2 linked regions of the Homo sapiens genome follow. The protein of the gene in region 1 purifies or fractionates together with the protein of each later gene. This does not show direct contact. Each region holds a gene or a part of one and is shown on either strand. Other genes may lie near its edges. The genes, in order: CBLL1 and ALDH18A1.

What was found.
Region 2: the proteins of CBLL1 (region 1) and ALDH18A1 purify together in Homo sapiens (affinity purification with mass spectrometry; one study listed by BioGRID and IntAct). This does not show direct contact.

The regions. Positions count from the first base shown.
Region 1 is NC_000007.14:107,750,335-107,754,157, reverse strand, and holds part of CBLL1 (E3 ubiquitin-protein ligase Hakai), read right to left. Parts: intron 1,614-3,823; exon of another isoform or gene 1,541-1,613; intron 748-1,540; coding exon 647-747; intron 264-646; coding exon 180-263; intron 1-179. UniProt on the Homo sapiens protein: E3 ubiquitin-protein ligase that mediates ubiquitination of several tyrosine-phosphorylated Src substrates, including CDH1, CTTN and DOK1. Targets CDH1 for endocytosis and degradation.
Region 2 is NC_000010.11:95,632,688-95,636,510, reverse strand, and holds part of ALDH18A1 (delta-1-pyrroline-5-carboxylate synthase), read left to right. Parts: intron 1-2,861; coding exon 2,862-3,020; intron 3,021-3,461; coding exon 3,462-3,552; intron 3,553-3,823. UniProt on the Homo sapiens protein: Bifunctional enzyme that converts glutamate to glutamate 5-semialdehyde, an intermediate in the biosynthesis of proline, ornithine and arginine.

The sequences.
Region 1 (3,823 bases):
AACAATTTGTCAAGATAATCATATTAAATTCATAGTATTCCAATACTTCCCTTAGTTATTTCATACTTATTTAAAATTTTGCAAACTTAGTCATTAAACAATGATAAACCTATCTAAATTTCAGAACCCCACCTCTATGCAAATGCTTACTTACAAAAACAATATTTAATTATACTTACCATTCTCCCATAGATTTTAATAGGCAATCCACACTTGTCACAGAAATGAACTGGTGTATCATCCTTTTCACCTAAGATGTTTATCTGTTGAAATGATATAATTAAAATTACCTTCTTACACAATTCTAAAGATTGTATCTACACAATGAATTGGTCAATATTTTATAAAAGTTGTTAAAACAATTAGAAATAGAAGCCTCTTGGTATAATCTCCATTTATTCCCCACCATTAGTTGTGATACCATTAGTTTTTCTTCTTAGTGTTAACAGTTATTGATTTTACTGAAAATTACTTCAAATTATTCTTGAAAATAGAGTATTAACAAATGATTTGTATGTGCTGAAAATCATAGTTATAAGTTCATAATATTCTTAATGTACTGTGCATTACTCCAATAAAACATTTTAAGTATTTAATACTTAAAATATTTTATTGTTATAATACAATTTTTCATTTTTAATTATACCTGAAAGTCCCAAAAAAGGTGTCCAGGAAATCTTCGCTGATTTGCAAACAGCTCACCCCCTTTACAGTCATACCGTTCTTCTTCATTATAATCAAATCCTTCTGAGAAAAAAAAAGTATTGCCCATTAACTTTCCAAATCTCAAATTTCATTTTGGAAGCACATATACATGGCAAAATAGACCTTTTCACTAAAAAGCTCATCTGATGCCTTTCAAAGCTTTTCTAAGAATAAGACAATCAAGATTACTTTAAAACATCAGTTAGAAGTGATCTTGGTGATCTAGTCCAACTCTTTTACTTCATTATTGAGAATATTACTGTATGGAGACTCATAACTCAACATATAGAAGATAAGTGGCAAAGCCAGGAACAGACCTCAGATCTCTTGACTCCCATTCAAATGCTCTTATCAATTCATGAAACTATTTCTAATGTAAAACTTTACTGATGATCATGCTTGTTGCACAAATTTTTAAGATATTGATCACCATTTATTCTAGTCTAGCTACAAAAATGGTATGCTAAGAGACTGATTGTATTGCCAATAGCATAATGAAAACATAAAGCATTCTATCGATTTTATTAGCAAACAAGTTATCCTCTTCTTTAGCCCTAAAATGAGTGATTTAGACACTTTAACATATTCATATTTCATCCTGTCAATTAAAACCACTCCCTGATTAATTACCCAAACAACAGGAGCCATATCGTATTCTCATGTATCCTTTCCTACAATGCATTTATCAATATCAATAAACTTAAGATATATGAAGATGAAAGGGGCTCAATTTCTCTGGCCTAATTAAAAAGTTGATGGCAATCTTCTCAACTCCTACAAAAGAACAGAAAACCAATCAACAGTCTGATGGGAATTCTAGGTAGAATCCAATTACCTAAAGTAAAGCTGAGCAGACAAATATATCCCTCCAAGGAGCCAGGCTTCTCACGACTCTTTTGGCCCTAGAACTGGTAAACAGAGTAGCCAAGCACACAAGTTTTAACTTTACCCACATGACTAAATTACAGCACCTATACACAGACACAGACACACACACACACACACAGAGAGACACATTCACATTAACACACAAACAATGATGCAAGAAGTTTTTGAAGCTGATAGACACTTCAGTGTACTGCTATTTAATTACTGCCAATACGAATGTATAATCCAAAGTCAGGATGCTCTTATAAGTTACACCTGAGTGTTCCTAGGCTCCTATATCACCCATTTACACCTTAGAAAAGCTGGTGTGATCTAAAATTCAAAATAAGGAAACTCAATTAATTTTTCTTTTTTTTTTTTTTTTTTGAGACAGAGTCTCACTCTGTCGCCCAGGTTGGAGTGCAGTGGCGCAATCTCCGCTCACTGCAAGCTCCACCTCCCAGGTTCATGCCATTCTCCTGCCTCGGCCTCCCGAGTAGCTGGGACTACAGGCACCCGCCACCACACCCAGCTAATTTTTTGTATTTTTAGTAGAGACGAGGTTTCACTGTGTTAGCCAGGATGGTCTCAATCTCCTGACCTCATGACCCGCCCGTCTCAGCCTCCCAAAGTGCTGGGAAAACAGGCGTGAGCCACCACACCTGGCAGAAACTCAATTTTTCAAACCAGAAAATTATTGAGATAACAGCCAAGGAAATTAGGAGCACATTATCATTTTTCAGAGTAGTTCCACCTGTACTCCCATCATTAAACTATATATATTTTGATTGATGCCTAGGAAAACAACAATCAAAAACAAACTTATTTTACTCCAAAATCCGAGAGGGAAAGGAGAGAAAAGGATTTTGGCTTTTCTGCATTGTTTGAACTATTAAAGAATTATTTGTACACTAACGTGTTGTTTTAAAAAACTATTTTTTTAAACAAAGCCAAAGCAGGAGTGACCCTAAATTAGAGGTAGTGCAACAGCAGCCCTAGGTTATTACTAACACGATTTCTAACATTTTGACTTGAAATATACTTGTTTAGATGGCAGAGGAACCCTACGATAAAAGAAACCATAACATATGTTGTAACTAAAGCAGTTTGATTCTACAAAATAAATACAGACAAATTGCTGGAATAGAACAGAAAGTCCAGAAATACAAAAAAATACTTTTAATACAGGGGTCCCCAACTCCCAGGCCTTGGACCAGTACCCTTGGCCTGTTAGGAATGCGGCCACACAGCAGGAGGTGAGGGAAGGGCTAGGGAGCATTACCACTTGACCTCTGCCTCCGCCTCCCGTCAGATCAGCAGCCTCATTAGATTCTCATAGGAACGCAAACCCTATTGTGAACCGTGCAAGAGAGGGATCTAGGTTGGTGCTCCTTACAAGAATCTAACTAATGCAACAGTTGCATCCCGAAACCACTCCCCGCACCCTGCCATCACTCTCCACCTGTGGAAAAACTGTCTTCCACGAAACCAGTCCTGGTGCCAAAAAGATTAGGGACTGCTGCTTTAACATATATATGATAACAGTAAAATCCCTATTCAGCAAGGAAAAGAGTTGGGACAATGTTTCGAGGGAAAAAAAAAAAAGCCAGACCCCACCTTTTTTCCCCTTAATAACCATAAATGTTCTAAAGCAGTATCAGTGAACTTTTTCTGTGAAATGCTAAATAGTAAATATTTACGCTTTGTGGACCATATGGTCTCAATCACAATTACTCAACTCTACCATTATAGTGTGAAAGCCCCCATAGATAATACTTAAATGAATGAGCATAGCTGTGTTCCAATAAAATTGTTTATAAAAACAGGGCTACATTTGGCCCACAGACATAGTTTGCTAACCTGTAATCAAGGGTAAGATGGAAAAACTCTTTTATACTGGTGAAATAGGGGAAGGCCTTTCAAATAATGTCACAAAACCCAGAAGTCATAAAAGCAAAGACCGGATATCTGACTATATAGAATCTTCAAGATTCTCTGCAATAACTATAATCCCAGCACTTTGGGAGGCCGATGCGGGCGGATCATGAGGTCAGGAGATCGAGACCATCCTGGCTAACACAGTGAAACCCCGTCTCCACTAAAAATACAAAAATTAGCTGGGCGTGGTGGCGGGCACCTGTAGTCCCAGCTACTCGGGAGGCTGAGGCAGGAGAATGGCATGAACCTGGGAGGCAGAGCTTGCAGTGAGCCGAGATCCCGCCACTGCACTCCAGCCTGGGTGACAGCGCAA
Region 2 (3,823 bases), on another chromosome or scaffold:
CTTACGAATTTTTGGTGGCTACCCCTAAATGTTCTAGAACCTTCTTTCTACATTGTTTCATTTTTACCTAAATCTCCTGAATTTTTTTGAATTATATTCTTAATCAACTGTACAACTACACACTAGAGACATCTCAATAACAGTCACTTCAGGAAACAACTGAAAAAAAAATCTAACTCCCAAATTATTTTATTTTGAAATTCCTTTACCTGTAAAGATGTAAAATAGCTGTTATTTTATATTATGGATATTATTTTACATGTACACTACATGCACAGATGTTATTTTACACAGGTGATATTGTTATATATACATATATTGTTTCAGGTTTTGCTTCTTCATTTCCTGTTACTTTTTTTTGTTTCTCCATCATTTGCCTGTTTGTACCCACAGTGATGTTCTGGTATTACACCAGAGTGTCCTCAAGTCAGTGAGGTAAAACAGAAAGGCACGGACTTGTCCCATTGCCTATGGCTGGGGACCCCACTTTCTGTAGTCTTAGCTTTTTTTCTGTTAGTATAAATACAGTATAAATCTCTATTTATATCACTCTTCTTTATTATTTGGTTTCTCTTCACAGTCCAATGACAACTTTGGTCTTTAATTTTTTTAAAGTGCCTGGAGCCAGGTGAGGAAGCTCAAGTCAGGGAGCTATGGTTTTGCTTTGGTTTGGTTTTTCCCAGGGATGAAACCTTTTGAGAGTTTGTTTTTGTTTTATTTTGTTTTGAATGATGGTAGCATTAAGAGTCCATGCAGCATCAGCCATTGTTTCCATTTACATTGAGTGAAAGAAGAGCCCTGCCCCCTCCAGTTCCCAACAAGCTTCAACCCCTGGGCTCTTTCCTCTCACACCTGTGTCTTCCCCCAAGGCCATCATATCTACAGAAAATATTTGCCCTTTGTACCTTTTCCTGTGGTTCCTTATTTTCTTCAGTAATCCTATATAGAAGACCATTGTCAGTGGCTTTTGAAAATTTCCAGTAGGTGGTTTGCCAGGTTAAAGACTTAAACACTTAAAACAGCTTGTTTTTTCTTCATAGAAGGGAAACTGATTTTCCCTCAACAGATTGCGCTTGTCTAAACACGTACTTTTCCCTCTTGGGACTCTTTATCTCCTACCTTCATGCTGAGATCCCCAGGCCATGTTTGTGAAGCTATTTTGGTGACAGGTATTTTTCCTGGACCTTTAGATCTCCTGCTTGTCTCTCCTACACACGGGTTTATATTAATTGTTTGATCTTTCACCATCGTGACTAGAATCTATATGTTCAGTTTGGACCTAGTCCTGTGTCCAACAGCACTAAGCTTTTCTGAAAAGGAGTTCATGATCTTCCCTTTCAAAAATATGCTCCATTTTATTTTTCCCCAAGACATCAACATTCTTATTCTCCATTCCAGCAGCTAGACTCTGGCATTTCAGAGGTACTCAACAAATTTTTTATCGAGTGAGTGAATTATTTTTCTATATGTATGTTTCCTGTGTTTTATATACCATTAAGGCTACTGTTTTATTGCTATATTCTTCTCAGTTACCATAGCCAGACCCTTAACCATCCTCACTTTGACTGTTTCAGTGCCTGCTTTCTTTACTATTTGCTTCCAGCTTTCCCTACCTCATCCTGCCCTACACAGCAAGAACGCTCTTCCGTAAACATTAGAGAGATTGCATTATTTATTGTTGAGCCTCAAGGTTTGTTGCCATTTAGTTTCTTGCTATCTCCATTCACCCATTTATCTTTTTCTCCTAAACATTGCATAAAATTCTGATTTAAGCTAGAAAGCAGAGCTGTTTACCAGCCCACACACCAGCTCTCCATTCTACCTTTGAGCACCTTATGCTCATCTCCTCCCTTGAACCAAGTTGTGTTCTGCCCCCCTTTCAGCTTGTGACCAAAGACTAACTTCCATAAATTTCTCAGACTAACCCCACATGCTCACACACAATCTTAGTTAACTCCAGTAATAGTCTGCTTTAGAGCAAGAGCAGTGACAACACAGCCCTATTCCATTTTGTCTAATACACTTTCACTCACTCACCAAATATTTAAGGGCCTACTATGGCCAGGCCCTGAATCAGATCCTAGAATACAGAGATATTTTAGAAATTGCTGGGGCACAGCGGTGTGCATCTTTAGTCCCAGTTACTCAGGAGGCTGAGGTGGGAGGATCACTTGAGAGTAGGAGTTCAAGTCCAGCGTGGACAACAGAGTAAGACCCTCTCTATAAAAAAAGAAAAGAAATTAATGGATAATCACTGATTCCCCCAGTATCCCTCTAAAATAGATACATTAATTTTCTTAATTTTGTAAATGGATGAGATTTTGGAATTTGGTAGCTCTTTGAGGATTAAAGTACTTTTGCAAGAAGTCTTGAACATTCTTAAATAAATCTTTCAGATTATTGTAATTTTTTTTATCTCTACAAAAATTGGGGCCAGGTGCAGTGGATCACACCTGTAATCCCATCACTTGAGGCCAGGAGTTTGAGACCAGCCTGGCCAACATGGCGAAACCCTGTCTCTACTAAAAATACAAAAATTAGCTGCGTGTGCCTGTAATCCTAGCTACTTGGAAAGCTGAGGCATGAGAACTGCTTGAACCCAGGAGGTGGAGGTTGCAGTGAGCAGACATTATGCCACTGCATTACGGCCTGAGCGACAGAATGAGACCCTGTCTCAAAAAAAAAAAAAAAAAAAAAAGAATTGGATAGCACCCAGATATGTGTATTTCATTCTAATCTTCTAATCTGTGTGGGGCCCCAGAAACCTAAAGTTTAACTCCCCTGCTCTTAGCGTCTTTTGTATACTGGGAAGTTTAGCGTTTTTCTCCCTCATGCATTTTCCATCTATTTAATCCTTTTAGATTTTGGTGACCAATTTGGATTTCCATGATGAGCAGAAGCGCCGGAACCTCAATGGAACACTTCATGAACTCCTTAGAATGAACATTGTCCCCATTGTCAACACAAATGATGCTGTTGTCCCCCCAGCTGAGCCCAACAGTGACCTGCAGGGGGTAAATGTGGGTAAAGTATTTCTAAGGGTTTAGCATGCTGGAGACACTAACACCATGCTATGCTGCATGCACTAACACCAGAAGTTTGGCATAAACAAGATGGAAAAGTTGTGAGAGAAACTTGTCATGGAGCAGTGACTGCATAAGCTCTTCTGAACTCGTGGTTGCATTCAACAGGGTGAGGTGCTATAGTCACTGAAGATGGTGCGATGAGCATGGCTTGTATATTTCAGTGGCTAGAAGACTGCATGTTTGGAAAAAGGATTGCCAGTAGACAGTGTGTTCTGCAGACAGAAGGGGCCTGCAAGAGCCGTCATCTACATATTTGGGTTCATTGGTTTTGCCTGATCCTAGCTTGGTTTTGCCTGAGCTTGGCTGTGTTCTTCCATGAATTTCTTTTTGGACTGCTTAGCTCACTCACTTATGACTTTTTAATCTGCATTCTAGGTTATTAGTGTTAAAGATAATGATAGCCTGGCTGCCCGACTGGCTGTGGAAATGAAAACTGATCTCTTGATTGTTCTTTCAGATGTAGAAGGTACAAAGTAATGCTTTTTTCCTTTATCTGCCCTTTGTTTTAAATGCTACATATGTGAGCACATGAGTTTCCCTCTTTCTTTGAGTCCCTCTGATGTTTTTTTGCTATAGATCATTAGCCATATGTTCTGACAAAGGGCTTTTATGACTCAAAACAGGGTGGGTGAGTCTAAGAGATGTCATTTGAATCCTGAAATGTTACTTCCAGGTGCTTTCAGTTGTTTTCCTTAAATAACAGCTTTATGGAGATGTAATTCACATACCATACAATT